Homo sapiens: one gene and its partners. The protein of the gene in region 1 interacts with the protein of each later gene in a biochemical or structural test. Each region holds a gene or a part of one and is shown on either strand. Other genes may lie near its edges.

Region 1 (7,206 bases):
ACCTGGCCCACTAGGGATTCTTATTGGCCTCAATGTGAGAAGCCCTTCCCCAGGTACCTCCAGATGGAAGCTTACAGGATGGTCAGTCCATTTCTTAGAGAAGTTCCTGGGGGGATTGAGTATTTCTGAGTCAGCTTCACTCTTGCATCATCTGCTTTGACAGTTTTCTTGGCTCCTGTAATGAGAAAAAGGGAAAAAAATGCTGCAGCAGCTGGGGCTGGCTTCCTGATCCCACCCTGGGAATCAGAGTCTCAGCTATTGATAAACATTTCTAGCCATACCTAGAAGGAGAGGACCTTGCTTCTGTGTGTTGAACAGTTCCAAGAACTCCATGGTGAACTTCCTATGAAGAACCCTCCATAACCCTCAACCCTTCAAACCTGACGGTATACCTCATTTTGTTCTCCCGTCTCTGGCATTCCTCACCCACCCACGCTGACTGGTCTTTCCAAAGTTCATTTCTGTAATATAGGATGTCTTTGGTTTCAACAAACATTTGTAAGTGCCCCTGAGCCTGGTCTTTGCTATACACTGGGGATTGAGAGGTGAGACACAAGCCCATGGGGAAATGTATGTTAATTAGAAAAGTGAAAAAATTGTGTATATGGGATAATTCCAACTGTTTTAAAAAAAAAATCCTAGGAAAAATGCAAATGCCTATTTCAGAGAAAGAAATGGAAATCCCAAGGTGGCAAAAAGGAAGGCAGAATTCATCCTGAATGTAACTGGGGTTTTTTTGTTTTGTTTTGTTTTGTTTGTTTGTTTTGTTTTTGAGACAGGCATGGGATTACATGCACCACCACGCCCAGCTAATTTTGTATTTTTAGTAGAGACGGGGTTTCTCCATGTTGGTCAGGCTGGTCTCGAACTCCCGACCTCAGGTGATCCGCCCGCCCAAGCCTCCCAAAGTGGTGGGATTACAGGCGTGAGCCACTGCGCCCAGCCTAAGTGGGTATTAAAGTCAGTGCTTCCAAGACACTGGGTCTGGGTATAGGTGGGCCTCAGGCTATGGACTAGGGTTTGAATGCCCCCAGGGAGATAGGACACAGACTCCCGGGCTTTCTAAGATAGAAACTGAAACAATGCTGTGGCACTTGGAAAGGCTACAGGGGCAGGATTGAGGTGGTGGGGGTGGTAAAAACTAGAAGAATACTAGCTGTTGTTGCCTCTGGGTGATGAGGTTAAGATACCACGGAAGGCCCACACACCTGTGGTTGGAACACTTTGGGAGCCGGGAGTCCCAGACCAGCCTGGACAACATGGCGAAAACCCACCTCTACAAAAAATAGATTAGCTGAGTGTGGTGGTGTGCGCCTGTGTCCTAGCTACTGGGGAGGCCAAAGGACGAGAATTAATTGCCTGAGCCCAAGAAGTCAAGGCTGCAGTGAGGTGTGATTGTGCCACAGTACTCAAGCCCAAGTGACAGAGCAAGACCCTGTCTAAAAAGATTTTTTTAAAGTCACAGAAGCTGGGCGTGGTGGCTCATGCCTGTAATCTCAGCTCTTTGGGAGGCTGAGGCAGGAGGATTGCTTGAGGCCACGAGTTGGAGACCAGCCTGGGCAACATAGGGAGACCCTGTCTCTACCAAAATTAAAAATTAGCTGGATGTGGTGGCACATGCCTGTAGTGCTAGCTACTCTGGAGGCTGAGGCAGGAGGATCACTTGAGCCCAGGGGTTCAAGGCTGCAGTGAGCTATGATAGTGCCACTGCACCCCAGACTGAGCAACAGAGTGAGACCCTGTCTGTAAAAGAAGTTGTTATTAATTGAAAAAAAGATTTAACAGGCTGGGTGCAGTGGCTCACACCTGTAATCTCAGCACTTTGAGAGGTGGAGGCGGGCGACTCACTTGAGCTCAGGAATTCAAGGCCGGTCTGGGAAACATGATGAAACCCTCTCTACAAAAAATACACAGATTAGCTGGGCATGGTGGTGCATGCCTGTAGTCCCAGCTACTTGGGAGGCTGAGATGGAGGAATCAATTGAGCCCAGGAGGTTGAGGCTGCAGTGAGCCATGATTTCACCACTGCACTCCAGCCTGTGCAACATAGGGAGACCCCGCCTCCAAAAAAAAAAGTAACAGAAAAACTCACTAGGTGCCGGGCATGGTGGCTCACGCCTGTAATCCAACACTTTGGGAGACCAAGGCGAGTGGATCACCTGAGGTCAGGAGTTTGAAACCAGACTGAACAACATGGTGACACCCTGTTTCTACTAAAAAATACAAAAATTAGCTGGGCTTGGTGACGTGTGCCTGCAGTCCCAGCTACTTGGGAGGCTGAGGCAGGAGAATTGCTTGAGCCTGGGAGGTGGCGGTTACAGTGAGCTGAGATCACGTCAGTGTACTCCAGCCTGGGTGACAGAGCCAGACTCCATCTAAAAGTAAAAAAGAAAAACTCACTAGGAAGGAATCTTGAAGTCTTGGAGAAGAGAGAATGGTCCATGAGGCCTCAGAGGAGGGGCTGCCTGAACTGGCGAGGGAGAGGCCCAGCCTAACAAGTTTCAGCTGCCAAGGCCCATGCCTGGGATCAGAACCCTGTCTCCTGGCTCAATTTTGCTTGTGGGGCTGCTTTTGCACAGCTATGTTGCCAGGAATCTGTCCAGGTTCCTAGCCAGTCATTGCAGACAAATTTTTTCTTTCTTTTGCTTTTGTTCTCTGTCTAGTCTTAGTCTCACAAATTTCTAAGGCAACTGTATGTAGTTCAGCTGATCTAGATCAAGTTCAGCCCAAGCAGCTGTTTTTCAGGTTGTGGGTCGGCTGGGCTGGACACCTCCATGTGAATTGGATTCAGGTTTGCCCAATGTGGCAGAAGTTGCAGCAGCTACTCAGGGCGTGCTCTTCTCATGAATCACAGAAACTTAGAAGAGACCAAATGGAATCACACAAGCACATTTCAAGCCTCTGCTGTGTCACAAGCACCATCATCCCATTGGCGAAAGCAAATCACATAGCCAAGCCCAACATCAGTGCAGTAGGGAAGCATAGAGCCTGTGTTGGGAAAACTTTATGAGGTTATATGGCAAAGGGTGTGTATGTTTAGTCTTATTACAGGGGAATGAAGAAACAAACCAATAATGCAATCAGCCATACTATTCATATATATCAGTAGGAACAGAAGGCAACCACATATAACATCTATGTATATATATATGTGTGTGTGGAAAGGATTACACCAACTTTTTTTTTTTTTTTTTGAGTCAGAGTCTTAACTCTGTCACCCAGGCTGGAGTGCGGTGGCATGATCTCAGCCCACTGCAACCTCCACCTCCCAGGTTCAAGCGATTCTCCTGCCTCAGCCTCCCAAGTAGTTGGGATTATAGGCACATGCCACCACACCCAGATAGTTTTTGTATTTTTACAAAACAACAGGGTTTCACCATGTTGGCCAGGCTGGTCTGGAACTCCTGACATCAAGTAATCTGCCTGCCTCGGCCTCCAAAAGTGCTGAGATTATAGGCGTGAGCCACCGTGCCCGGCTGAGAATACTTGTTTACTTGTTTTCAAGCAACAAAAATTGAGAATCAGTCTTTGAGACTCCATGGCCAGAAACAACACAACATTCCACTATACACAGGGTGCTTCTGGGGGTCCTCGGTGTTGTGTTTATTGGGGTGGTACCTAAATGTTGTATTTGCTCTATAATTATTTGTTAAACTCTCCATTTACGTTTGGGGCACTTCTCAGTATATTTGCTAGAGTTCAAATGTTTAAAAGTTTACAAAATGAAAACTGAGCAGAGTAAGACAAGCCAAAAAAGTATTAACTCAGCAGGAATGGGAAAAGTTATGAAAGGAGGGAAAACTAAATATCATACTGCTGGTTCAGCTGTGATTAGAATTTACGTAGTCATAATGGAAACACTGAATACTGGTCTAACCAGGATTACAGTATGATGACAATGGAAAGAGGAGTGATGGGAAATGCTGGCATGTGTGGTGGTGTTGGTAACAGGACAAGCGGTCTAAGCTCTAAACTCTCATCATTTATAAGGGGAACTAATGCCTAAAACTGAAAAATCAAACAGTTGCATGTTATTTTGAGATTTTTTAAATTATTGTTAAGATAGTAGCAGTATTTACTTTTAAAACTATATTTATGTATTACTCTGGTGAAAAAGCAACTACTTTTAATAAATGGATATTTATCTTGAATGCATCCACTTCCTCCCATTCCCGTTGCCAAATTCCTCATCCCAGCCACCATCCTCTCTTGCTTGGAGTATCATAGCAGATAACTGGTCTTGATGCCTTCCCATCTCGTCTCAATTCCTGATTCATCTGACACCTGCAACCAAAGATCTTTCAAAAATAAATATTCTAGTCCAGGCACAGTGACTCATATCTATAACCCCAGCATTTTGGGAGGCCAAGGCCCGATGATCACTTGAGGCCTGGGTAACACAGCGAGTCCTCTGTTCTACAAAAAATGAAAACATTAACTAGTGTGGTGGTGTGTGACTATAGTGCTAGCTACTGGGGAGGCTGGGTGGGAGGATACGTTGAGCCCAGGAGTTGGAGGCTGCAGTGAGCTATGATCACATTGCTCTCAGTGAGACCTGGCTGACAGAGTGAGAACCTCTCTCTTAAAAATAATAAATAAATTTTATCTCAGTCCCTTGCTTAAAAGCCTTTCAAAGACTAGATCACTTGCAATGTTGTTGTCTCCTCCCAAGGGAGTCATTCCTCCCTTCCTCTTTGTTGACAGAGCCCCAGTTTGAGGGACAGCGGGATATCCACCATGCTGCTGTGAGACTCGGGCAGTTGTGACTGGTTTAGAAGTGGATACACAGGGAGAGGTCTTCTGGAAAAGGTCTTCTGGAGAGCTGAGATCAGAAGACAATCAACTGGCTTCAAATCTAAGGAGAGACAGGCACAAAATGGAAGAGATGACATGGGCACTGGTTACCTGGTAAACACAAGTGGACACTGGTGAGGGACTGGGTCATGGAGACTGCAGTAGTCTTTACCCTTTTCAGCGTTTTTCACCATGAACCCCACTGGGAGCACACAGAAGATTGGAGAAAGTTTTAATAAAATGTCTCAAGATCTGGAAGAAGACAATGGCAGCTACTGTGAAAGGATCACAGTGCTCCACCCAGACCCTTCCCTGTATCCCCTACCGGACAAAAGCCTTAGTCTGTGGAGGGAAGGACACCAAATCCTGTCACCCCCTTGGATGAAGCTCCCTTGCATCTGGGGGAATGAAACAGGAACAAAACAAAACTTTCCCTGGGCAGGGGCAGGAATACACACTGGGCCCAGAACTGGGGGAGGAACAGGAGCACTAAGGAGGACATAACCCCAAAATCAGAGACACAAAGGGCCTGACAGAGACTGAGACTTGATCAGAACAGAGAATTCCCTCCTCCCCCACCTGCCAATGGTAAGCTGACAAGCCTTGAGTTAGAAGTAAAAATGTTACAGGAGAGAGACAAGAGTATGGGAAGAAGACCCTTTCTGAGGGTCACAAAGGGAGGACCTAAAGCTGAGCAGGGAGCACACATGGAAGGAGAAAATCCCTCTGGCAGGCCAGCCTGCACCCTCAGTCCAAGGTGTCATTGGAGGAACTGGAAGCTGCTGCATTGGGGGTAACCATAGCAACAATAAACCTCAAACCTAGCCCAACTCTTTTTTTTATTTACTTTTTAGAGACAAGGTCTTGCTCTGTTGCCCAGGCTGAAGTGCAGTGGTGTGATCGCAGCTCACTGCAGCCTCAAACTCCTGGGCTCAAGCAATCCTCCTGCTTCAGCCTTTGTAGGAGATTGGTCAGGGTGGTGGGAGAAATTATAGGAAAGACACAAACCTTCTTGGAAGGCCGAGAGGTTTTGCAAAAGCTTCAGAAAGAAATTATGGCTGAAGGCAGCCAAATTCTTATCTGAAGCCTGAGAGCAAAGGGCAGATAACAGGGGAGTTGTATAGGAACTTACCTAGATAAATTTGTTTATTCCTGTGTCCAGAAACCAACCTTTGATCATTCACACACAGGACTGCTGTCTACTTGGGATGTTGACAATGTTTATTGCCCACAAATTGTGTTTGCTCCAAGCCTTTGTCATTAAATTTGTGCTAAATAAATGTGAGGGCCACCAGCTTAAGGGGACTGCTAACTCTCTTCGGCCCCTAGTGCTGGCAGTCCCCTAGCCTGCTCTCTCACTGAATATCTGTGTCTGAGTACTCCTTTCATCTGTCACTCGGCCAAAGTCTGTGGGACAGACTCGGCAGGTGATTCCCTGTGTGAGGAATGCTGCAACAGATCACGACGGAACCCTCGAAAATGAAGGTGAAGAGACTGCGCAGTCAGTAAGTCATTGGTGCCTGTTCAGCATTTCCAAGTTCAAAGGAATTGCTCAAGCTAGGGACGATCATCATGGGATGACAGTTGTCATCATGGGACAACAGTTGTCAGCTCAACAGCAACAGTATATAAAAGTAGTAAAACAAATGCTGAAAGTTAGCAGAGCCTCAGACAGGCTCAATTATGGGACCTAATGCAAACTGTTGTTTCCCATAACCCATGGCTCTCGGAAGAAGGTACACTAGACGTAGAGCTCTGGGAAGAAATTTTAACATCATGAGCAAGGGCAATGGGTCTCAGTAACATCTTTAACGTTATGGGCTTTAGTTAGGACTGCTTTGGTCCCACTCTACACAGAAAAGCCTAAAAAAGTAAGGGAGATGGAACCGTCACCTACCCTACCGTCTCCTCCTTCTCCCTCAGCCCAGCCATTAACAGGCAAAAATAACAAAGAGGAAACAGAGGTTTTGCCTGAGCCCCCTCCTCCAATAAATTGGAAAAAGACAAGGGATACACTACAGCTTTGGGACCCTGTCTTAGCCAAGCGGCATCAGAAGGGGAGCTCTTAGCCTGCCCAGTAATGCAAGATCGACAAGGCGATCAGGTATATGAACCCATTTCTTTTGACGCTTATAAAGAGATAAGAAAAAAACGTTAAAGAAAATGGAGCTGCTAGCCCATTTATGAAAGGAATAATTGAAGCCATAGCAGACAACTTCTTTTGACGCTTATAAAGTGGTAAGAAAAAGCATTAAACGGAGCCACTAGCCCATTTACAAAAGGAATAATTGAAACCATAGCAGACAACTTCCATATCACCCCATGGGACTGGTCAGTGCTAGCTAAAACAACTTTAAAGGCCAGTCAGTACCTCCTCTGGAGGGCAGAATTTGATAAATTGTGTGAACAGCA
Region 2 (8,779 bases), on another chromosome or scaffold:
GCTCAAGGAAATAAAAGAGGATACAAACAAATGGAAGAACATTCCATGCTCATGGGTAGGAAGAATCAATATCATGAAAATGGCCATACTGCCCAAGGTAATTTATAGATTCAATGCCATCCCCATTAAGCTACCAATGACTTTCTTCACAGAATTGAAAAAAACTACTTTAAAGTTCATATGGAACCAAAAAAGAGGCCACATTGCCAAGTAAATCCTAAGCCAAAAGAACAAAGCTGGAGGCATCATGCTACCTGACTTCAAACTATACTACAAGGCTACAGTAACCAAAACAGCATGGTACTTGGTACCAAAACTGATACCAAGACCAATGGAACAGGAAAGAGCCCTCAGAAATAATGCCGCATGTCTACAACTATCTGATCTTTGACAAAGCTGACAAAAACAAGCAATGGGGAAAGGATTCCCTATTTAATAAATGGTGCTGGGAAAACTGGCTAGCCATATGTAGAAAGCTGAAACCGGGTCCCTTCCTTACACCTTATACAAAAATTAATTCAAGGTGGATTAAAGACTTACATGTCAGACCTAAAACCATAAAAACCCTAGAAGAAAACCTAGGCAATACCATTCAGGACATAGGCATGGGCAAGGACTTCATGTGTAAAAGACCAAAAGCAATGGCAACAAAAGCCAAAATTGACAAATGGGATCTAATTAAACTAAAGAACTTCTGCACAGCAAAAGAAACTACCATCAGAGTGAACAGGCAACCTGCAGAATGAGAGAAAATTTTTGCAATCTACTCATCTGACAAAGGGCTAATATCCAGAATCTACAATGAACTCCAACAAATTTACAAGAAAAAAACAAACAACCCCATCAAAAAGTGGGCAAAGGATATGAACAAACACTTCTCAAAAGAAGACATTTATACAGCCAAAAATCACATGAAAAAATGCTCATCATCACTGGCCATCAGAGAAATGCAAATCAAAACCACAATGAGATACCATCTCACACCAGTTAGAATGGCGATCATTAAAAAGTCAGGAAACAACAGGTGCTGGAGAGGATGTGGAGAAATAGGAACACTTTTACACTGTTGGTGGGACTGTAAACTAGTTCAACCATTGTGGAAGTCAGTGTGGCGATTCCTCAGGGATCTAGAGCTAGGAATACCATTTGACCTAGCCATCCCATTACTGGGTATATACCCAAAGGATTATAAATCATGCTGCTATAAAGACACATACACATGTATGTTTATTGCGGCACTATTCACAATAGCAAAGACTTGGAACCAACCCAAATGTCCAACAATGATAGACTGGATTAAGAAAATGTGGCACATATACACCATGGAATACTATGCAGCCATAAAAAATGATGAGTTCATGTCCTTTGTAGGGACATGGATGAAGCTGGAAACCATCATTCTCAGCAAACTATCGCAAGGACAAAAAAACCAAACACCACATGTTCTCACTCATAGGTGGGAATTGAACAATGGGAACACACGGACACAGGAAGGGGAACATCACACACCGGGGCTGTTGTGGGGTGGGGGGAGTGGGGAGGGATAGCATTAGGAGATATACCTAATGTTAAATGACGTGTTAATGGGTGCAGCACACCAACATGGCACATGTATACATATGTAACAAACCTGCACTTTGTGCACATGTACCCTAAAACTTAAAGTATAATAATAATAATTTCAAAAGACAAATAAAATTTAAAAAAAGATTTATTCATTAACTTAAAAATATTTCTTTAGAATCTGTTCTTGCCAGACACTGTCTAGGGACCAGGACCGCAGCAATGAACAAAATATTACAGTCCTGATATTACTCCCTCATGGAGCCTCAGTTCTACTGGAAGAGACTGATCAAGAAAATGTGTACAAAAAAGTCACATTTTATTTTTACCTTTTTTCTTTTCACTAAACGGTTACCATGACTATTTTAGTTTATTTCTCCTCATTTCCAATAAGACTGAGGTTTTCATTTTAACACTTTCCTTATTTGTGTCACTATCCAGAGACTTTATTGGACTATTGAGTTTGTTTCTTCTCCGTTTATATTCATCTTCCCCACATAGCTAATAATGTCTGTTCTCCTTTATGCCACATGACTTTAGATATTGTACACTAGGCTTCTTCTCTTCTCTTTATTGAAATGTACACACGATTCTCTTGATGATCCGCCAAGGGGTCAGAGCCTCTTGCCCACTGCTAAGCTTGGGACTACCTCTTCTTGTGAAATATATGTTAATATTTTTGACCAAAATATACTAAATCATCTCCTTGTTATGTGTTCTTACATTTTTTTGTAATTTATTTCAAAATAATGTTTGTGCCACAATATTACTCACCACTCAAATCTTCATTCTCAGATATTGAAACTCAATTTTTGAACTAAATTTTTGAACTAAAATACTTCATCAAAAAAGTCTTTAATTTATTTGAGAGATGTTCTTTTCAATATTTGAAGGTTGAACATAATTCTATTACAGAAAACAAATATTTTTTCTAGATTTTTTATGAATGTTAATTAAGTTTTTATTAATTTTACTTTGCCTAAGACCACTATAAGTTCCCAAATTTTTATGTCAGGGTTCAGAAACAGAATATAACACTCTATTATATATAATTACACATAGGGAAGATCCCACAGCATTTTCTATATTTTATAAGTAATATAAACTTTACTAGTTTTATTACTAATCTACTAATATATATAATAATTTTATATACGAATGTATAATTACAATGCTAATTTATATACTAATATACTAATATATACTAATACTAATTATACTAGTTTTTATACTCATTTCTATACTATAAATATACTACATACTGGTATACTTTTATATACTAATTTTTAAGCCAGAGCTTCATTATCAACTGGTACACTCTAAGCTACTTTTTCTTTTATATCATCTATTATCTTTGTTTATGGTTTCCAAGTCTTTTCTACCCCATTAAGAATTTTCTTACAAAGTAAACCACATTGTTTCTTTTTTACTTAATTCTGTATTTCTGTCTCATTTTAATATTGTTTTGAAATATTACAAACTAGATAATAAACTGGGAAGTTTGAGGCTCTAGACAAGTTTGATGAGTAAACTCTTCTAAAAACATTGTTTATAAACATTTAAAGTAGTAAATGCCCCCATACCATTCCCTCCATTTCTCAACTCAGTATGCTACTGCTGTAAACTACCTGCTGGACAAAGCTTTTCCAGTAATTATTTATCTACCCATACTATAATTGAAGTATAATTCTTTTTATAACTGTGATATGCTAAATCAAATTGGAAGATTAATTAAAAAAATGAATCTCCTTTTAATATTAACTATGAACTAGCCTCATACTATATATATATATATATATATATATATATATATATATGCATAAAATTAGCTATTATATTTTCTTAAACTCATGAAGGCTATATGTCATTACCAAATTCTTCTGGGCACTTCTATCTTTTTTAGCCTAAGTGTTAAAAATAATCTCAGTACTACCTTAAATACTTTTATTTCAAACACTATATTTTAAGTAACTACGTTCCTTCTATAGCTCAAGCTACTTTGAAATACATGGTTAGGAGAAGATACAACAAATTTGTATCTAAAATTCTTACCGTTTTTCCAAGATTGAAGAGAAGTGAAGGTAGTGCTGGATGGATGATGGTCCATCAGCTTCTGTGACTGTTTATATACTATATTTAATGACACACTAATTTTGTGATTTGAAATAAGATCAATAGCGAGCTTTAATTCCAAGAAGTCCACATGATTAGAAAATGATTTCTGCCTATTACATATCCCCAGAAATTCTGGGCATCATTATAACAAGGGAACAATTCACAAGTTGATAAAAGAAACCTGTCCAGGAAATGCAATTATTCAATAACAAAAGACAATGACTGGAGGACAGTGATACTCTGGCCCTGTCCCCAAGTTATTATGGACATAATTAGGTCTCTTTAGGGCCTAGTGGGGCCTTGAGATTTCAGTTGTGGGAAAATTGTATGTGAACGCTAGATATACACAGGGCTTCACAAAGGCCACAGTTTCATGTGAACCTAAGCAGTTGTTAGTGCTTTATGCTGAAATGAAGAAACTGACAAGATAACAAGTCCATGATGGTAGCTTAGTTATGTGAGGCAAACTGTTTCTCCCAGGGCCACTTGATTTGGAAAAAAAAATAATTTAGTTAAAACAAATATTTTGTACACAAGATAAATAAACTTTCCTCTGTAATGGAATAACTTGAAGAGGGAATCTGGGTGGCTGGTATAGGCAAAATCTTCAGTAAATCTGTAATAAAAATTTTGCAAAGTATCACGGAGTTTTATTTACCTTTTAATATTGATTATCTCTTTTCAGGTCAAGCATAATTATGATAATATTAATGATGGGTTTTTTTGCTTAGTTCTAACCCTTTGCCAAGCACTAAGCAAAGATATTATCTTGTATAATCTGCACAAGAACATCATGAGGTAGCTCTCCTCTTCATATTTAGGTTGAGAAAACAGAGATGCCAAAAGGTTAAGTAACTTGCTCAAAACCATATTGTTAATGGCAAAGATACCAGTTGGACTCAGATCTGTCTGACTACATGTGATTCTGTTTGATCACATGTGAGTCTCAGAGCCCATGTTTTAACCTTCTGATAATTTTTTATAAAATTTATCTATCAATGTAGCATTTGGTTGAAATATGTACAATTTAATTATGCCTGAATTGGAAAAGTAGGGCCTCTGTGCTGTGTGTGGCAGGGGAGCTTGCCATTAAGGAACTGCTCTTTTAGTTGAGCCTTAGAGAATGAGTAGAATTTTGCGAGATGATTAAATGGGGATAGATATTTTGGCTGAAGAAAACACAGGAACTGAAAGAGCAACATACCAGTTTGAGGATATTCAGAGGGCATACATTGCAAGTTACAATTGCAGAGGTTTGATAGAATCAGATCATGGATGACTGTGAATGTCAGGCATGCACTGTGACATAATTCAGTGGAAGCAAATATATTAGAGATTTGAAAGAAAAATGGATTGTAAAATTTCTTGGATTTCATGACTTTATGACAACAAATCAGGTAACCTAGTAAAGGAAGTTGTTATGTTATGTTATTGCAGTAGCCTAAGACAGACATTATGATGATCTCAAGTAGGGAAATGGTCCTGGGCATCTTAGGCAATAAAAAGACAAACTTCTCATTAAAATACGAGAAATGTGAAAAATTGGGGAAATGAATTAATATATTATGCCTGAGTGACTGAAAAGTTAGCCATGTTATAAATCAAAATATGAAACCAGGCTGAAATTAGAAATGAAACACTGAGTAAAACCTTGTACGTGGTAAATTTGAAGGTGTCCAGAAGATGTTTTAAATTAAATGTGATACTCAAGAAATAATCATGAGTATAATTTTTAAAGGTAATTTCTCCCTTCAAAGGAGTAAGTGAAGGTCTCTAGGGAAAGAGTATCAAGTGAGAAAAGAAATTGTACAAAACAAAATTCAAGTATCCTTTCTTTTACAGGGGCTGGTATAGCAAAAGGAAATAGGAAAAAAAAAAACCTGCGATATCAAGAATAAGAGAGTACAGAATCCACTTCCTCTCCTTGATATCCTGCATTGCTAGAGGAAGCAAGTGAGGTCAACAGTGAAATGCTACACAGCTGATTGAGATACACTCCAAATGGTTAAGAAGTAAGTAATTTGTGAGGAATTAAAAGTAACATATGTGTACTGCCCTTCTGAGAAACTTAGAAGAGGAGATAAGGAGAACTGTAAGATTGTGACTAGGTGTACAGGGATAATCAGAACCACGGGAAGGTATTTTTAGGGTAAGGAAGACTTGTAGCTTACAAGAAAGAGGCCAATAAGGAAAGAGTTGAAACATACCAAAGAAGTGGGAGTAAATTAATGGAACAAGTTCCTGTACAGTCATGGAGAAAAGAATAAGACCTATAAAAAATGTACCAGTTTTCCTAAGAAAACAAAAAGGAATAAGAAGATAAGTAGATACAATACATGTTTGAGATAAAAGGTAGAGAAGTTGAAGTTAAATGGTCTTAATGTTCTAGTGAGGTGAAAGGGGGAGTTCTCAACTGAAATTGAAGGACATGGTTATACATAGTTGAATCTTTAAGTCAACTAAGCCAGATACAGAAGGACGAATATTACACAATGTTATTTATATGTGGAATCTTGTTTTAAAAATTGAATATATAGAAACAAAGAGTAGAAGGATGGGTATCAGGGGTTCAGGGTGGAAGATAGATAAGGAGATGTAGGTCAAAGGAAACAAAGCTGCAGTTATGTAGGATGAATAAGTTTAGACATGTAATGTACAGTGTGAGGATGATAATCATTAATATTTTATTGTATAATAAAAATTTGCTGAAAGTAGATTTTAGATGTTCTTACCACAAGATAAAAAGAGTAACCTATGTGAGGTGATGGACATATTAATTTGCTTGACTACAGTAATCATTTCACTATATAAGTATCAAAACATCATGTTGTACATCTTAAATATATGTAATTTTGAAAGAGCAGAAATTTTTGGTTAATGTGAAAATGAAAATGAATAACAAATCCACGAGCAATAATTATGACTTATATGAGATTATATATCAGATTTTTTTATCTAAGTAGTTGTATGGCAAGATGGCGGAGATTTAGTATCAATAGGTTAAGAGAATTGTTAGGATAGGGTTGGGATTATTAGTGTTTGTGTTAAAAATGGCAAACCATCAGGTATTGTTTAAGCTAACATACTAAAAAGAGGGCTTGAATGACTAGAGATGGCAAGAAAGGCAAAGACCTGGCCTAAGAAGATACCAATTTTGAGAAGTACAAAAACAGAGATTTTTTCATTTGGGAATTTCAGCATTAGAAAGAAGAGAATTTCTGTATGATGACTAGATCCAAGGAATAGCCATACATTCAGAATGCTGAAAATAGGTGAACATAAAGTTTGTTAGAGGAAAATGTATTTCATATTAAATATCTATGTTTGCAGGCATTTCCTAAATTATCCAGAATGAAATGAAAAATAAAAGATACATTTGACCTCAAGGAGGTCAAAACCTTCGTGGGAAAACAGACATAAAAATCTACTTGTTACGACATGTAAGGAATATGCTAATAAAGCAGTAAGAAGGTGCAATTGACAGAAGGAGAATACTTAGTTCATTTTAGTTGATTCATGGGAGAGGAAAATAGAATCTCCATGAGGCCATGAGTCCTGAGCAGAATCTTGAAGCCAGATAAAGCAGTTAATCGAGGAGGATAGAGAATTCTAGCTAAAAATAGTTAAAGACTGTAGTCTTGGATATGAGAAACAAGTAACTAGAACTAAATCAAGTAGTGAACCTGGATAATGAAGTTCAAGGAAGAGAGAGGATGAAAATGTGAACACAAAAAGAGAAAGCAATCAGACGACGATGGACAAAGCATGCTTTGCTCCTTAGGAATGTGAATTTTATTCTGCAGATGGAGGGATCTATTGAAGAATTTAAGATGGACAGTAACATTTAGAGAATGGCTATTTTTAGAGAACAAATGATACAGGTACACATTTATTAAAATGAAACTGACCAAGTTTGAGCTCACGTTCTTTGTTTTTGTTTTGGTTTTCCAGTAGGTAAATATTGATTGCTAATGTTTATGAAAGTACAGAAAATTGAGGCAAAAAAGAATACTGAATCCCAGAAAAGAGCAGGGTCTTGGTCAAAGTACGAAAGTAGAGACTGAGGTAGGCTTCAAAATACTTGAGTTGTGCCCATTTACAAAATAAGTCTACAAATTTCCTTGCCTCTTTAGTGATTGCTATTCATAAGTGTTTGGCTGACTGTGTTGGATGTTACTCATTCTTATAATTTTTATTTTTTCTATTTACTGCCTATGACAGATATATTCAGGACTTAAGCACAAATAGATGCCCTTCTAAATTAAATAAGCTGAGTATAGACCTACATAACTATTTTTCTTTATAATATACCTTGCATTAATATCATCCTAGATCTATGAATGAGGGGGACACTCCTGATTGTCACATATATTTCATATTTCTCAGAAAACCCAGGTCAATGTCTACTATACATTTGAATTGTTCAGCTGATATTCATTTTATGTTCATACTGAGCCAGGAGGAAGCCAGGAAAAGAAATGATGAAATTACTCCAGCGTCCTAAGTCCAAATAGGAAAGGCCCTAGCTACCCAATGTGGCTTTGTGGTTTAGCTCTGAGTTGCCAAGGCCACAGGCAACAAAGTTAAGGTTTCTAAGAAAGTAATACAAAAACAAGCATGCCTTGTCCATTCTATATATCATTTGTTTTTTCTTAGAAAAATGCTTTATGCATTGTGCAATAAATATAACATAGCCTTGTAATGCTCATCAATTTTTAGTCACACTAATCAGTATAATTACAGACTTGATTAGCCCAGAAAAGTGGGCAAAACTATGATTAAGGAAAGCACTAGAATAAGAGGCTTGCCTAAGAAAAAATTGAAAAGCCAGAGGTTTAAGATAAAACCAGGTGCTAAGAGCCCAGTAAGCATCAGAACCCAATGACAAATAAGCAAAATGTCATGTGGGGCAACCCAGGCTTTCACAATGAACAATTTAATAATTGTTATTTTCTGCTGGGCGCTGTGGCTCACGCCTGTAATCCCAGCACTTTGGGAGACCGAGGCGGGCGGATCACAAGGTCAGGAGATCGAGACCATCCTGGCTAACACGGTGAAACCCCGTCTCTACTTAAAATACAAAAAATTAGCCGGGTGTGGT
Region 3 (8,413 bases), on another chromosome or scaffold:
TGTCTAAAAAAAAAAAAAAAAAAAAAAAAAATTAGCTAGGTGTGTTGGCAGGCGCCTAGTAGTCCCAGCTACCTGGGAGGCTGAGGGAGGAGAGTCGCTTGAACCCGGGAGGCAGAGGTTGCAGTGAGCCAAGATCGCGCCACTGCACTCCAGCCTGGGTGACAGAGTGAGACTGTCTCAAAAAAAACAAAAAAATACACAAAAATTAGCCGGGTGACATGCGCCTGTAGTCCCAGCTACTTGGGAGGCTGCGGCAGGAAAATTGTTTGAACCCAAGAGACGGAGGTTACAGTAAGCTGAGATCACGCCACTGCACACTCCAGCCTGGGTGACAGAGACAGACTCTGTCTCAAAAAAGAACAAAAACAAAAAATATGCTCACTGGATTTTCCTTTCTGTCTATGATCTCTCCTCCATTAGACTGGGATCTACCTGGGAAGCTACCTTTTTCCCACAGACCTGTCTCCATAATGCTACTATAGTGTTCTCCACACGTGGATGATGGTAAGGAAAAGGATGGCTGGGGCAAAGAAAGAAGAAACACGAAGGGTCTTTCTTTTGAGTCAGGTAGGAGATACAACTTAGGAAACAGATATGGAAAACAACGGGTGCCGAGGATAAAGGAATAGAAGCCAATCAAGGCGTGACAAAAATGGAAGAAAACTGAATAATGAGAAAGGAATAGATTAAAGTGAGGCTAGGTGAAAGAGCATTGGAGAAGATATAGAGATGACTTGTGGAATAGGAGGTAGAAAAAGTAGCTCTCACCCTGGAAACCTTCTCAGCAGCTCTGATCCTGGAAGCCTTCTCAGCAGGTGGCATCTTGCAATTCAGGAGGCCTAGACAGAAAGTAAACACAAAGGTGGCTGAGTTCCAAGCAGCTGGTTGCCCAGGGGTTGATTATCACGAGGCCTGTGTATCACCTTGGGTTCCCCTCTGCCTTCACTTACCTTTCTGATGCCTCCTGGGGCTCACTGGGGATCCCCTTCCACCTGACTGGCTCCCAGAAGGTACGGGGGCTGAGGTAGGTCCCGGAAGGTCCCCCGCCCCCACCCCAGGCTCTGGTGTTGGGCTGGAGGCCTGCCCTTTCTGGTCCTGGCTCCCTCCCTCTGGCTCCCCTCTCTGTGTATCTCTCTCCAGGATCACTTTGGGCACCTTCTCTTCTAACTCGGCTGGATCGCACTCTCTGTTTGCTACTGGTCTCTCTACTTCTCTCTCAAATGCTTTGCTTGGAAGGGTCTGCTTCTGTACTTGTTTCTCTTGTATTTCCTCAGATGTCTCAATTTCTACCTTCAAACTCTCCCTATCTCTTTCAGGACTTGCACTTTCCCCATTTTTGTCAGATTCTTGTCTCTGGGTGTCTCTAGCTAACAACTGTTTTTGTTCTCTGTCCTGTTTCCCCTTGGTTAATTCTTCCTCTCCTGTCACATCTGTCTGTCTTTCTGGTAGCAGTTTCTCAGTTTCTCTCTCCAATGGCCCTCTCTCAGGGCCCACCCTCTCTGCTGTTTCTTTTGGTATACCCATGACTTTATCCACAGTCTGCCTCCCTCTGCCTTGAATCCCCATTGGCTCTGTGTGAACTGGGCTCTCTGGATGTTGGTCTCCTGGTATTGCCCTAGGTGGAGACAGGCAAGGTCCATAGGCCTCAAGGTGCGTGTCAAAAGGCTGGGTCTCAGAGTCCTCAGACTCTCTCAGACAGAATGGCTGTGTAGCCAGGACCTCCCATGGTTCATCTAGGGTACCTGGAAGGGGAGGAAGGAAGAGAGAGAGAGGGAGAGGGAGAGAAAAGAGGGAGAGGAAGAGGGAAAGGGAAGTACAGGTTGACATAATAAATATGATGAGAAAGGATTTAGATAAACTCATGAATAATAAATCTGAACAGGTTATTAAAGGTAAGCTGGGAATAAGGGTGGTAGTTATAACATTTAACGTTTGTCTCAAAAAGGTCATAGCCTTAGGCGGGCATGGTGGCTCAGACATGTAATCCCAGGACTTTGGGAGGCCAAGACATGAGGATTGCTTGAGGCCAGGAGTTTGAGACTAGCCTGGACAACATGGCAAAACCCCATCTCTACAAAAAATACAAAAAAATTAGGTGTGGGGACGGGGACCTGTAGTCCTGTAGTCTCAGCTACCCGGGAGGCTGAGGTAGGAGAACTACTTGAACCCCAAAGGTCAAGACTGTAGTGAGCTGTGATCATACCACTGCACTTCAGCCTGAGTGACAGAGACTCTGTCTCAAAAAAAAAAAAAAAAAAAAACCCAAGAGAAAAAGAAAAACATCATAGCCTAATATGAGTTCCCTGAATAGTCTCTCATCATACCACTGCATTCCAGCCTGAGTGACAGAGACCCTGTCTCAAAAAAAGAAAGAAAGAAAGAAAGAAAGAAAAACATCATAGCCTAATAAGAGAGTTCCCTGAATAGTCTCTCTCTCTCAAGACAGTTTCACTCTGTCACCCAGGCTGGAGTGCAGTGGCATGATGTTGGCTCACTGCAACTCCCAACTGCTGGGCTCAGGAGATCCTCCCACCTCAGCCTCCCAAGTAGCTGGGACTACGGCATGTGCCAAAGTGCCCGGCTAATTTTTTGTATTTGTTGTAGAGATGGGGTTTGGTCTTGAACTCTTAGACTCAAGTGATCCACCCACATTGGTCTCCCAAAGTGCTGGGATTACAGGTGTGAGCCACCATGCTTGGCTGGAATTTCCTTCTTTTTAAAGGCTGAATAGTATTCCACTGTGTATATATACCACATTTTCTTTTTTCTTCATTGACACATAATAATTGTACATATTTATGGGGTACCTGTGCTATTTTGACTCATGCATACAATGTACAATGATAAAACCAAGATAATTGGGATATCCACTATCTCAAACATTTATCATTTCTTTGTCTTGGAAACATATCAAATCTCTTCTAGCTATTTTGAAATACACAATAAATTATTAACTATAGTAACACTACTGTGGAACTGAACACTAGAACTTATTCATTCAATCTGACTGGATTTTTGTATTCATTAACCAACCTCTTTATGCATTCTGTCCCTCTACCCTTCCTAGCCTTTGGTAACCACCATTCTACTCTCTACTTCCATGAGATCCATGTTTTTAGCTCCCACATGAGTGAGCATACAATATTTGCCTTTCTGTGCTGACTTATTTCACTTAACATAATGTCCTCAGGGTTCATCCATGTTGCTGCAGATGACAGGATTTCATTCTCTTCTGTTGCTGAATACTGTTCCACTGTGTATATATACACATTTTCTTTTTTTTTTAGATTGAGTCTTGCTCTGTCACCCAGTTTGGAGTGCAGTGGCATGACCTCAGCTCACTGCAACCTCTGCGTCTTAGGCAGCAATCCTCCCATCTTAGCCTCCCGAGTAGCTAAGACTACAGGTGCATGCCACCATGCCCAGCTAAATTTTGTATTTTGAGCCACTGCACCCAGCCTATATACACATTTTCTTTTTTTTTATTATTAGAGATGAAGTCTCACTCTGTTGCCCATGTTGGAGTGCAGTGGTGTGACCTTGGCTCACTGCAACCTCTGCCTCCGGGGTTCAAATGAGTCTCCTGCTTCAGTCTCCCGAGTAGCTGGGACTACAGGCACCTGCCACCATGCCCAGCTAATTTTTGTATTTTTAGTAGAGACAGGGTTTCACCATGTTGGCCAGGCTGGTCTCAAACTCCTGACCTCATGTGATCCACCCACTTCGGCTTCCCAAAGTGCTGGGATTACAGGCATGAGGCACTGTGCCCGGCCTACATTTTCTTTTCTTTCGTTTTTTTGAGACAGAGTTTCACTCTTGTTGCCCAGGCCAGAGTGCGATGGCACAATCTCAGCTCACTGCAACCTCTGCCTCCTGGGTTCAAGGGATTCTCCTGACTCAGTCTCCTGAGTAGCTGGGATTACAGGCATGCACCACCACACCCGGCTAATTTTGTATTTTTAGTAGAGACGGGGTTTCTCCATGTTGGTCAGGCTGGTCTCAAGCTCCCGATCTCAGGTGATCTGCCTGCCTTGGCCTCCCAAAGTGTTGGGATTAGAGGTGTGAGCCACTGTGCCCGACCCCGGCCTACATTTTCTTTATCCATTCATCTGTTGATGGACATTTAGTTTGATTTCATATCTGCCTATTGTGAACAGTGCTGCAATAGTGTGTGTGTGTTTTTTTTAAGAGACATTGGGGGTGGGGGTTGAGGGATGGGCTATTGCCCAGACTGGGCTCAACTGATCTTCCCATCCTGGCCTCCCATGTAACTGGGACTACAGGTGCTCACTACTATGCTGGGCTAATTTTTTCATTTTTGTGGAGACCAGGTCTCTCTCTGTTGCCCAGGCCAGTCCCTAAATATTTTCAACCTGCAGCTGGTTGAATTCACGGACGCAAACTCGCATACACAGAGGGCTCACTGTAATCAGAGTATGAAAGAAACATGTAGGAAGGCAAATCAAGAAAGAACGCAGGCCGGGCGCAGTGGCTTACGCCTGCAATTCCAGCATTTTGGGAGGCCGAGGCAGGCGGATCACTTGAGGTCGGGAGTTTGTGACCAGCCTGGCCAACATGGTGAAACCCTGTCTCTACTAAACATACAAAAAATTAGCCAGGCATGGTCATGGACAGCTGTAATCCCAGCTACCTGGGAAGCTGAAGGAAGAGAAACCGCCTGGGAGGCGGAGGTTACAGTGAGCCGAGACTGCACCACTGTAATCCAGCCTGAGTGACAGAGGAAAAAAAAGAGAATGCAGAATTGGGGACACAGAGGAGGGAAGAGTTTCTTATACCTGTTGTCTGGAAGCTGCAATGGGAAGGGCCAAGCTCTTGGGGTGGAGTCAACATGAAGGCCTGGGTAGGTTCATCCTCCATGCTCTGGACTGCTGTACAGGAAAAGATGGCCTAAGTTCATCTCCTCCATACTACTGTAGGGTTCCATTCCTGGTCTCCTACCCTACCCATACTAGCCTTTACCCTTCAAGGACCACCAGTCTAATCTCCCAGCTCCCACTGGTACAGGATTCAAATAACACAGAAGTCCTCACCTTCCAGGCCCTGATTCTCCAGAAAGCACTGGGTAGCTTGTAGGTCCAGATCTTCAGAATCTGGTCGGGGAGGAATATAAGACAGTTTAAAACAAAAATCATACCTGACACTAAACTCCTTAAATAATCTCTACCTTTCTCTCCCCAACCCCAGCTGTTAGAACCCTGGTTGATTTCAGAGGTCTAGGAAGGAAGGCCAGCACTTACCACCATAGTTGTCTTCAGAGTCCTTGGTCCCACCCACATGTTGTTCTCTCTCCCTTCCTGTGGGGACCTGGGCTCCCTCTCTCTGTGGCTGGGTGGATTCCCCTAGAGTGTCTGTGTCCACCACCAGATCTGTGAGGTTCTCTCTTGAGATAGGGAGGTCCTGCTCCACTTGTGCCACAGGTGGCCCACCCTGGGCCCCCACCTCATGAGCTCTCTCCTGCTTAAGAACAGCTGCAGCCCACTCTGCCCCAGCATCCCCTTCTGCTGGAAGCTGGCTCTTTCTTACATCTGCAACTACTGAGGCTGTTAGGGAGGTGCCCTCCTCTGCATCTGTTTCACAGTCCCCATGCAGAGGCCAGGCTTCCTCTAGAGATACCACAAGCAGCTTTGCTGGTCCCCCAACTGCTTTCACATCTGTTTGATTTGTCCCCTCCACAGACACCTGATGCTTCTTTATATGTATAATGGCTGACCCTGGCGGGACTTCCTTCTCCACTTGTGTGTTGATGTCCACTGTGGTGGAGGCTTGGCTTCTCTCCAGGTGGATCCCAGGTGAGCTCTTATCTGCTTCCACACTGTCATCACTGTCCCCAAAAGGAGGTTGGTCCTTTTCTGAATGTGCTCTAACAAGGGCTCTAATCTTTGTGTGATCCTTGAGGACAGCTTCTCTATTTTCCACTGGGAGCTCTTCCTCCTCCACGTCTGTGTCACTGTCTCTCTCAGTGGTGGTTTGGCTTCGCTGCAGAAGGACCACACGTTGGGGCATGTCCTCTTCTGCATCTCTGTTCCATATAGCAGGCTGGCTCTCTTTCAGATGTGCCAAAGTCAGCGCTGCTGAGACTTCTTCCTCGTCATCTGTATCGCTGTTGATAACCATGGAAGCTTGGCTTTTCTCCAGAGGGACAGCCTGTGGGGCCTTGCCTTCTTCCACATCTGTATCACTACCAGCCTGGCTCTCCTGCAGATGGGCCAGGCCTGGTGCTCCAGGACCCCTTGTACCTACTCCATGGAAGATCTTCCTCTTCTTCATAGGAATGACAACTGGGGTTGCTGGGATCCTCTCTTCTTCCGCATCAGTGTCGCTGTCGATGAAGCCAAAAGGCTGAGCCCTTTCCAAATGGACCTCAGCTGGCCTTCCAGGAGGCCTGCTGTCATCATCCACATCTGTGTCACTGTCCTCTCCAGGAGGTTGGCTCCTCTCCAGAATCACCCCAGCTGGAACCACCCCATTCCCTGCACCCCTCTTGACTTTTGTATCATTGTCCCTCTCCTTCACTAAAGGCTGATCCTTTTCAAGCTGGATTTCAGTTACAACTTCAGCTTCAGACTGCTTTGCCTCTACAGTGGCACCTCTTCTGGCAGCTGAGGAGGCCTCCTCTGTGGCTGGTTGCTGACCTTCTTCCACATCTGTGTCACTGTTCAAATTGAAGGCAAAAGGCGGCCCAAGGCCGCCCAGGACCGGGGAATGCCCCTCTTCATCACTGTGAAGGGAAGAAAAGAGAGTCTATAGAATTTATTTCCCTGGAAGGGATACCCCAACTCAACTGTGAGCTCCTTGAGGGGAGACACAAGGTAGCATATTTCTTCTTCTGTTTCCAATTTGTTTTCCACTTGGCACATCAGATGTGCTCCATAAAAATTCAGCTGAGTGAATGAATATGTATGGTTCCCCAGCCCCAACTCTCATGATAATCATCTCTTTTAGAGATTGATCCTCCAGCCCCTGGTTCTTCCTCATTTTGAAGACTCAGGTGTCTGACTCTTTGGCACTCACCTCTCTGGAACTATCACAGAGGAAGATGTGGTCCTTGATTTTTTTACCATACGCCTTTCAGAAAGAAAATCTGTCAAGAACAGAAAGGAATGAGTTGACAATTGTACACTCATTATTCCTGTCTCCTCATTCTCCCTGCCAATATACAAACTTACCTACTTCCTCCTCCGAGTCCTCAGCCAACAGAAGCCTCTGGGGTTGAGTTTCTCCCTGTACTCTGGGTGTCTCTTCTACTGTCAGAGGGCCCCGGGAGACAAAGGGCAGAGAGACATCCAGGCGATGGTACTGGCAGAGCAAGTCAGCAAAGAGAATCAATTCCTGGTCCCTCAGACGGTGACTCACCCCAGGGCTCAAAACCTTAGGAGGTCTCAGGATTTGAGTACCATTAAGGCTCCCACAGTCTCGGAGGATAGGTGCCTTGTCCCAGGCTAAGATTTCAATCTCTGCATGTTGTTTGGAGATAGATGGAAAGGGCAGGGCCACAGAGCAGTCAGGCATTCGGCCTACCACATTCTTCCCGAGGTGTAGTGGGAAATCTAAGAATTAGAGAGGTAGATAAGCTCCAAGATCAGAGTCCTGGCCTGTCATTAGGAAAAAGTGCCTATTAGGTACTCTACTACTCACTCAAGGCCTCCATATGCATTAGAAAAATAAAAGGCCCTAGGACATCTAGGCACTGAAAGAGTATATGCGATACCCCATCCATCCACAATGGATGTTTTTTTACTGTTATAAAATACACATAACACAAAATGTATCACCTTAATAATTTTAAGTGTATAGTTCAGTGGCATTAAGTGCATTCACACTGTTGTGCAATCATCACTACCATCCATCTCCAGAGCACACAATTGGATTTTATTTGATTTTTTTTTTTTTTTTGAGACAGGGTCTCATTCTGTCACCCAGGCTAGAATGCAGTGTCATGATCATAGATCAGTGCAATCTTGAACTCTTGGGTTCAAGTGATCATCTGGCTCAGCCTCCCAAGTAGGTGGGACTGCAGATGTGAAATGAACCACCACACCTGGCTAATTTTTAAATTTTTCGTAGAGACAGGGTTTTGCTATGCTACCCAGGCTGGTCTCTAACTCCTAGTCTCAAGTGATCCTTCTGCCTTGGCCTCTCAAAGCACGGGAATTACAGGTGTGAGTCACTGCACCCAGCTTCATTTCAATCTCTTAATTTTCTTTTATCAAAGTAAAATCACTTCCAGTGAGTCCAGGGTAGTAGTCTGCAACTATCAACTCAATCGGCCCCATCTCTTCCATTCATGAAAAAAAAAAATTCACATCTCATTGAAACATACATAAGCTTCTTGCAACCCTCCAAATACCTTACCACAAAAATAAAAGATCTATATCAATACTTGAACATCCAA
Region 4 (7,210 bases), on another chromosome or scaffold:
AAAACCTTCTTGGTCATTTTCTAGCATCTTCCTTCTTCTTAGAGGCCTGTTGGGGTTTAATTAACCCCATCAATTTTGAGTTTTCCTAAAACTTCTCATTGGAAGGAGGGCCTGCAACCTGTATTTGGGAATACCCTGTATTACAGGCTTAAAAAGGACAGTCCTCCACATCTTCATCCTAGTCCTTATCCCCAGGCTACAGATGGATGAGACGCCGGAGGCCTAGGCTACACATTTTTCCAGTAACCAATCCCTGCCTGCCATGGTAAGGGGTGGGACAAGCGGCTCCACTTCTGAACCCCTCTCAATCTGTAAGATCAAGGTAATTATAAGGTACCTGCCTGAACTACCTCCTGACTGCTTCAAGGATCAAACTAGGTAATAGTTTAGAAAAACTTAAAATAATAGAAAGAAATCTTCACTCTAACCAAAATAAGAACTAGACCATTTGAAAATGATTTATGGGCCAGGTGAGGTGACTCATGCCTGTAATCCCAGCACTTTGGGATGCCAAAGCAGGAGGACTGCTTGAGGTCAGGAGTTCGAGACCAGCCTGGACAATACGGTGGGACTCCCATGTCTAATTTAAAAGAAAAAAAAAAAAGAAGAAAAAGAGTTTTTACCCCAATGAGAGGAAAAAAACATTTTTGCAAACTTGTGATTTCTAGAGGGCCCAGGACCTCCATTTTCAAGCATCAAGAGACCCTCCAGACAGCAGGACTTTGGTAATTATTCTATCTTATAATGTTTCAGACTTGGAGACCCTTTTAAACAAGGTGGTTGGTGATTTATCCTGCTCCGTCATTAGTGGCTTGGCCTGCTCTGCAATTACAGGCAGTGATTAGAATCTTATATTACACCACAGGTCCCCCTTCAAACTAAACATCAAAATTAATCAACTAAACGAGTGCTGACCTCATATAAGGTCTGCCTGGGGCCCCCTCATCGAGGGGGTTCCAGTTGGGCGAAGCCAGTCCGGAATCCCAGAGAGCCTGGCCCGGCCTGCCTGGAGATCTTGGCGGGTCTCCCTGGAAGCTCTCATACCATCTGGTGCCTCCCCCCACCTCTTGCTGCTGGGGACCCTTTAATCCCCTCAGCCAACCCCCCACGAACTAAATGAAGGCCCGAGGCCCTTTCCAGTGAGGCCAAGAAACGTTCGTCTTTTCCACCTGTTTCTGAACATCAGAGGCCTGTCTTGGAGGAACTACATTTAGGGCCTAACCCCAATCCCTCACTTTGTAATAAGCCCGCTTGGGCCTCAAGCCTGTCTCCTCCATACACTGTGCATGCAAACTGTGCTCCTCAAATACTTAAGGACTCTGCAGGAAAGGCCCTAGGAAATTATCTTGGGGGTTCCCTTGTTTTCTTCCCCGTCCCCCGTAAAAAAGTAGCCCAGAGAAGCCTTGAGTTGCCTAAGGTCACACAGCAAGTTGGCGAGCAGGAAGAAGTAGGTTCCCGGAGACCCTTTCAACCCGACACTTTGCCTACCCGCCTAGCGGCTAGGGCTAAACCCCCGAGGCATCAGGCTCCAGACCCGGCCCGAGGGTGACTCTGCAAGTGTCTGCGCCCGGCCGTTGCAGGCCGGCCGGCGGGACCCGGGGCCAGGGCGCGCGGGGGGAGGGGCGCAGGCCGCTCCTGCAGGCGCGGGAAAGCAGCGCACCCCGACCGCATGCACCGCCACGCGGGTGCACCCGGCCCCACTTCCTGCCAGAGGGGGCACCCAAGCCCGCCTTGGGGCAGGAAACCTGGCGCGCGCGGGCGCGGGGGAGAGGAAGAAAGCCCCCTCCCTCCGTCCCCTCCCCGCAAAATAAAGCCCCAGAAGAAAATAAAATAGAAACGGGGAGTCAAAGGGACTAGTTCCAACAGAGCCCAGCAAAGCAGCGAAACCAGTTTGTGGGGGCGGAGGGCAGGCCCGGCCCCTGGGGCTGAAGAGGCGCGGGCCAGGCCAGAGGTGGGGTCGGGGTGAAGCCCCAAACCCAGGCCCGCGCTCCGGCCTCATCTGCGGAGGGGGCGCGAGAGAAAGGCCGAGAGGGCGTAGGGCCGAATTTGGGGGTTCCTCCCCATCTCCCTCACTTCCAGAACTTCCCTGAGCTGCGGGGGGCGCCCGACCCCCCACTCTCCTGCCGCGCCGCAGCCCGTGTCTCTCCCCGCCCCTCACCCGGGCCCGGGCTCGGGCTCGGGCTCCGGCTCCAGCGGGAGCGGCCGCCGCGCGAGGTGCGCCGGGCTCCTCCGGGCTCCGCCGGGTGCACAACTCGCGCTCGCCGCAGCTGCGCGCCCCCTCCCCCACCGCGCGCCTTTCCCGGGTCCCCGCCCCCCGCAGGGCGCCCGCGGCGCGGGGGAAGGGGTGCGGGCGTCCTCCCCGCGCCGCCGGGCCCCGCCGCCCGCCCCCGCGCCGCGCGGCCCTCCCCCGCCGCCGGCTCGCGCCGCCCCGGCCTGGGAATAAAGCCGGCGGCGCGCGCTGCAGCCCCGGGCGGCTCGCAGGAGGGGCGACGTGCGGGCGGGGGCGCGGGCGCCCCCCTCCGCCGCCGCCGCCGCGGGCCCCGGGGACGACTCACCGCGAGCTCGGCCGCCGGCCTGCGGTGCGCGCTCCGGGTTGCCGGGAGCGGCGGTGCTGGGCGCTGAGGACCGGCCTGGCTCCGCCGCGGCCGCCGCTGGTAGCAAATGCGGATCTGAAACCGGGAGAGAGCAGAGGCGCTCAGAGACCGCCGCCGCCGCGTGCTCGCCGCCCAGGCCCCCGCGGGGTATTTATGTGTCACAGCCAGGCGGGGGGACAAAAATATTCCCCCTCCCCCGAAGGATGGCGAGGGGCAGGAAGCTGGGCACGGCCCGTGCGCGGCCTCAATAAATAAATAATTTAATTAAATTATAGATATAAAAAAAAGAAGCCACCGGAGCGGCCGCGAACTCACGCCTTCTTGGAGCCGCGCCAGCGCCAGAAATAGCCCCGGCTCGGAGTCCCAATTAGAGGAGCGCAGCACCGGCTCAGGGGAGCTTAAAAAGAGCGACCCAGGGGCAGGGGGGACGGGCCCGCCCGCGCCAGCCGTGTCACTCAGGGGGCGGGGCCATGCAAATGAGCCCGGGGATTTAAAAGGGCGGCCGCCCGCCAGCCGCCGCCGCCGCTGCCGCGCGGGTGGGTGCTGACGGCAGGGAGGGGCGTGTGGGAGGCCTGGGCTGCGAACTCGAGTCGACCGCCCACTCCTCGCAGTCCCGGACGGAGGAGGTGTGGGAAGGCACGCGCAGAGGAGTCACGAAGGAGCTTCTGGCGGGGGGTGGTGACGGGTGGCGGTATCCTTCCTCCCTGGTACAGGGGTCCCAGGGAGAGTCACCTCTAGGGGCTTCCAGGGCGTGTGGGCCCGGCCCCCCCCCCAGGGCGTGTGGGGGTGGACGGGGGTCCACGCGGGCCCAGGGGGTGAAGAGAAACGCGCTCGTTAGAGAATTCCGCGGCCTACACGCCGCCCCCTAACTAAAATAGAGAGATGGTAGATTTCCCCTGGGCGGACAGGTGTCAGCATGTGCCTTTCAGTGTCAACCCGCGTGTGGCTGATTGGTGAGATACAAGTCTTGTGAAATTCAAACGTGAAACTTGTGAAATCCAAAGTGTTTTATTAATGGCCACCAGCGAGCCATGATCAAGGTGGAGCCTTCCAGCGAAACCAACGATTGGCTCGTTGGCAGGTACACCCAAGGGAGGCTTCATACCTTGAGGTGACTTAGATGGTGTTCTGGAGATACGCAGGCCCACTTGGGGACCTGGGCCCTTCCGTTGGGACTGTAAATAAAAATAAAAGGTGGGCCAGAGGTCGCCTGGAAGCGCTTTGAGGGCAGGGGCCGAGCACGCAGGCCATCTCCGCCACGCCTGGCCCGCCCGGCGCCCGGCTTAACAAAGACTTGTTGCACCGAGCGAGAAGGAAGCCAAAGGGGAAGATGGCGGGGAGGGCGGTGGGGGAGGAAAGGGCGCAGGCGGAGCGGCGCGCCCTGCAGGCCGGCCCGGGGCCTTCTCGGGCGCACCTCCCGCGCCCGGTCCCCGAGGCGGCCTTCCACACCTCCTGTGATGCAGGGAATTGAAATGCGCTCCAGTGACACACGGCTGTGACTCATGTTTTTCTCTGCTCCCCTTCTTCCTCCCCGGTCAGCCGAGGCCCTGGCCCAGCCCCCTCCTCAGGGGGCGAGCCGGCGGTGGAGGGGACGCAGGAAAGCCCTGGGCCCGGCGCGGAGGCGGGGTGGGGAGCGGCGGGCTGGGCCTTGCAGTTGCAGGAATGTGGCAGGAATGTTTCCGGTGGGGGTGGGGAGCGGGCGGGGGGTGGGCCCAGCCCCCACCCGTGCGGCGGGAAGCGCTCGGGGCCCGGGCAGCACGTGCTTGACCGGGTGGGGGCGGGGGCGCCTGGGCGGGAAGGCGCCAGGGGCCGGGAGCGCGGGTTCAAAGGGGAGGGCGCGGGCCTGGGGCCGGCTCGGCCTAGGGGTGGGCCCGGAGGCCGCCCTCTGCGCGCCGGCTCCCCGCCCCACGTCCAGGTGAAACGCAGTTCCTGAGAAGTCCCGGGGCCGCCCTTGGAGGGGAAAGGAAGTCACCAAAGGGCGGCCCGAGGGGAGGGGAGCAGAGGGCGGCGGGGCCCGCGAAGAAGGCTGGGGGAGGGGCGGCCTGCCCCTTTGTCTGGTGGGTGGGGGTGGGGCGGGTGGATCGCGCCGCTCCCTCCATCTTTGTGCCCTGGGCCCGGAGCGCGCGCTTAGTAGGCCGTGAGTGGTGGTGGCTGGAGGGCGTTCGGTTTCGAGCGCGGGAACCTCTGCGGCGTGGCATGGAGGCGCGATTCCTCAGCCTCCAGCACCCCGTCCCAGGTCACAGGCTCCCCGCCAGCACCTTGGGACCCAGGTCTGGGCTCGGGCTGCCCCCCAGAGCCGCGCGCCCCTCCACTTCGCGCTCTCCAAGGCCGCGGAGGCTGCTAGGCCCGGGCACCGGGCTGGCGGCCTGGCGGCTGGGGAGGTGCGGAGAGGGTCCTGTCCGCCCTCTCTCTCGGGTACATCTCTCCCCGTCCGTGTGGGACGTGTGGCCGCCCCTGAGACGGGGAGGGGAGAGGGACTTCCGCCTCGAGTGGGCTGTGGAAAACTTGGCCAACTTTTTGGCCCACTTGTAGCAAGCCGACTCGATCTTATTTTTCCTACTCTTATTTTCCTCTCGGCCTGATTTCCTCAGCGACTTGTTTTTTACCTTGTATTGTGTGTATTTTTGTCAGCCACCTCAAACCCTTTCTGGAAGGAGGCAGGTATAAATAAATTCGTAGGCAAATAAATATAGTAGCTTGTTCCTCTCCAGGATTACCCACACCCTTGAAATCCAAATAACTCTCTACTCACTGACCCCCACCTCCACGCTTTCTGGATTGTCAATGCCCTGAATTCACTGTCTTTCCTTTCTTTCCCCTTTAAATAAGTATTAAGCAGAAGAGCGAGTGGTAGAGATAAAAAGATGGGTAGGATCTAGTCCTTGTCCCAGCGAATTTCACGTCTAGGGAAATCAGAATCAGGCCTGCACTAGAGAAAACTGAATAGCAGTACAGGAGATGCCATGTTAGAAAACATTTCATTCAGTAGTTATTGAGAACCTACTCTGTAGCAGGAACTGGGCCAAATTCTTGGGGTACAATTAATGAACAAAGTCCCCTGCACTCTTGAAACTTGGACCAAGGGGTCAGGCGCTTACAGACTTAGGAGGAAATACAGGAGGAGAGGATGGGAGCCCAGGGTGGTCAGGGAAGTCCTGGAGGAGACGGGCTTGAGCAGGCCTTCGTGAGACTTGGATAGGTGGGTGGCTGAGGAGTTGGGGACAGGGCAAGCAGGAAGAGGGAGCTATTCCAGGCCAAGGACATGGTCAAGGCCCGGGGGGTTGAGTTGGTCGATACCAGAACCCGTCTTCCCCACAGGAAGCATTTTCTGTTATTGGAGTCAGTCTATACAGTTTGCTCAAGGACGACCCAGTGAGCTTCAGTGAACCCAATGGGAATGTCCAGGGAATGGGGAGTTTGAGTCAACTTTATATTTTGGGACGCTGACTCTTAAGCTCATTTTCTAGATGAGTAGGTGAAAAAACTAATGTGGATGGTTCCATTTAGTTCTATTAAGTATTCAGCTTGATGCATTTTCACAAAGTGAACACCTTTGTGTCACCAGCATGCAGACCAAGAAATACAACATCTCCAGTACCCCTGTGTAACCACCATCTCAACTTAAGCAGCGCTTCGTTTCACCTGTTCGTGCACACGTAGGGATATGGAGTCTTACATTATGTATTCTCCTGGGTTAGTTTCCTTTGCTTACCCTTATGTCTGTGAGGTTCATCCATGCTATTGTGTGTGGCTGCAGAATGTTCATTCTCAGGGCTGCTTAGTGATGTGATATGAATGTACCACAATTTTATATCCATTCTGTTGAAGGACATTTGGATAGTTTCTGGCGGGGGGCTATTATGAATAGTGCTGCCATGAATGTTCTAGAATATAGGTGAGTAGATGTGCAAATTTCTGTTGCGTACGTGCCTAGGAGAGGAATTATTGGATCACAGGATGTGTATGCTCAGCTTCAGCAGACGAGCAGGGCACTTCAGAGTGAAAGCGGCACTATTAATACTTATGGCCAGACAACAGGCATAAACCTGACCTGGCCCCTATCAACCAGGACTGACCCAGGCCGGTAGGAGGTGGGGCTACCCTGGTACACAATGTTTGACCACTCTCCTCAAGAGTCACCCAGCTACTAGTGCATCTGGTCATCTGGCAGGATCAGGCTTCCAGGCTCTGCTGACCACAAGTTCTGCTGCCAGCAAGGCTGGCAGGCCTAGAAGGGGAGGAGGGCCTCTGCTGCTTCCAACTTTCGAGGGAAAAACTCTCAAGTGAAAAGGAGGGCCCAGGAATCAGGGCCCTCTCCGCCTTCCTACTGTGAGCTAATGACCCACCTTGCATGGCCCCAAGATGCCATGGACTTGTCAGCTTACTTCTTCAGGGCTAAATCCCCAAGGAAGCCCAGCTCCTCTCCAACCCCTGAAGAAATCTAAGGAGAGAGTGGAGTTGATAAGCATATACTGAATGCACATGTTCTCTCAGATCCTCCACATCCCTACTGGTGAGTGATACTGTTGCCCCATTTCACAGGTATTAAAACCAGGTCTTGGCCGGGTGTGGTGGCTCAAGCCTGTAATCCCAGCACTTTGGGAGACTGAGGTGGG

Evidence for each region.
Region 2: of the proteins of CSNK2A1 (region 1) and CSN2, one has a biochemical effect on the other in vitro, tested with the Homo sapiens proteins (2 studies listed by BioGRID).
Region 3: of the proteins of CSNK2A1 (region 1) and MDC1, one has a biochemical effect on the other in vitro, tested with the Homo sapiens proteins (2 studies listed by BioGRID and IntAct).
Region 4: of the proteins of CSNK2A1 (region 1) and HMGA1, one has a biochemical effect on the other in vitro, tested with the Homo sapiens proteins (2 studies listed by BioGRID and IntAct).

What each region holds. Positions count from the first base shown.
Region 1 is NC_000020.11:471,449-478,654, reverse strand, and holds the end of CSNK2A1 (casein kinase II subunit alpha), read left to right. Parts: 3' UTR 1-6,157; downstream 6,158-7,206. UniProt on the Homo sapiens protein: Catalytic subunit of a constitutively active serine/threonine-protein kinase complex that phosphorylates a large number of substrates containing acidic residues C-terminal to the phosphorylated serine or threonine.
Region 2 is NC_000004.12:69,962,066-69,970,844, forward strand, and holds the start of CSN2 (beta-casein isoform 1 precursor), read right to left. Parts: upstream 3,664-8,779; 5' UTR 3,616-3,663; intron 1-3,615. UniProt on the Homo sapiens protein: Important role in determination of the surface properties of the casein micelles.
Region 3 is NC_000006.12:30,706,616-30,715,028, forward strand, and holds part of MDC1 (mediator of DNA damage checkpoint protein 1), read right to left. Parts: intron 7,569-8,413; coding exon 7,188-7,568; intron 7,103-7,187; coding exon 7,033-7,102; intron 6,740-7,032; coding exon 5,259-6,739; intron 5,112-5,258; coding exon 5,052-5,111; intron 4,890-5,051; coding exon 4,797-4,889; intron 1,743-4,796; coding exon 951-1,742; intron 840-950; coding exon 769-839; intron 1-768. UniProt on the Homo sapiens protein: Histone reader protein required for checkpoint-mediated cell cycle arrest in response to DNA damage within both the S phase and G2/M phases of the cell cycle.
Region 4 is NC_000006.12:34,232,663-34,239,872, reverse strand, and holds the start of HMGA1 (high mobility group protein HMG-I/HMG-Y), read right to left. Parts: upstream 3,001-7,210; 5' UTR 2,992-3,000; coding exon of another isoform or gene 2,910-2,991; exon of another isoform or gene 2,670-2,909; coding exon of another isoform or gene 2,556-2,669; intron 2,459-2,555; coding exon of another isoform or gene 1,493-2,458; intron 1,083-1,492; exon of another isoform or gene 916-1,082; intron 1-915. Other genes in the region: translation initiation factor IF-2-like, read right to left, coding at 1,493-2,458, 2,556-2,669, 2,910-2,991, 3,143-3,298, 3,617-3,627. UniProt on the Homo sapiens protein: HMG-I/Y bind preferentially to the minor groove of A+T rich regions in double-stranded DNA. It is suggested that these proteins could function in nucleosome phasing and in the 3'-end processing of mRNA transcripts.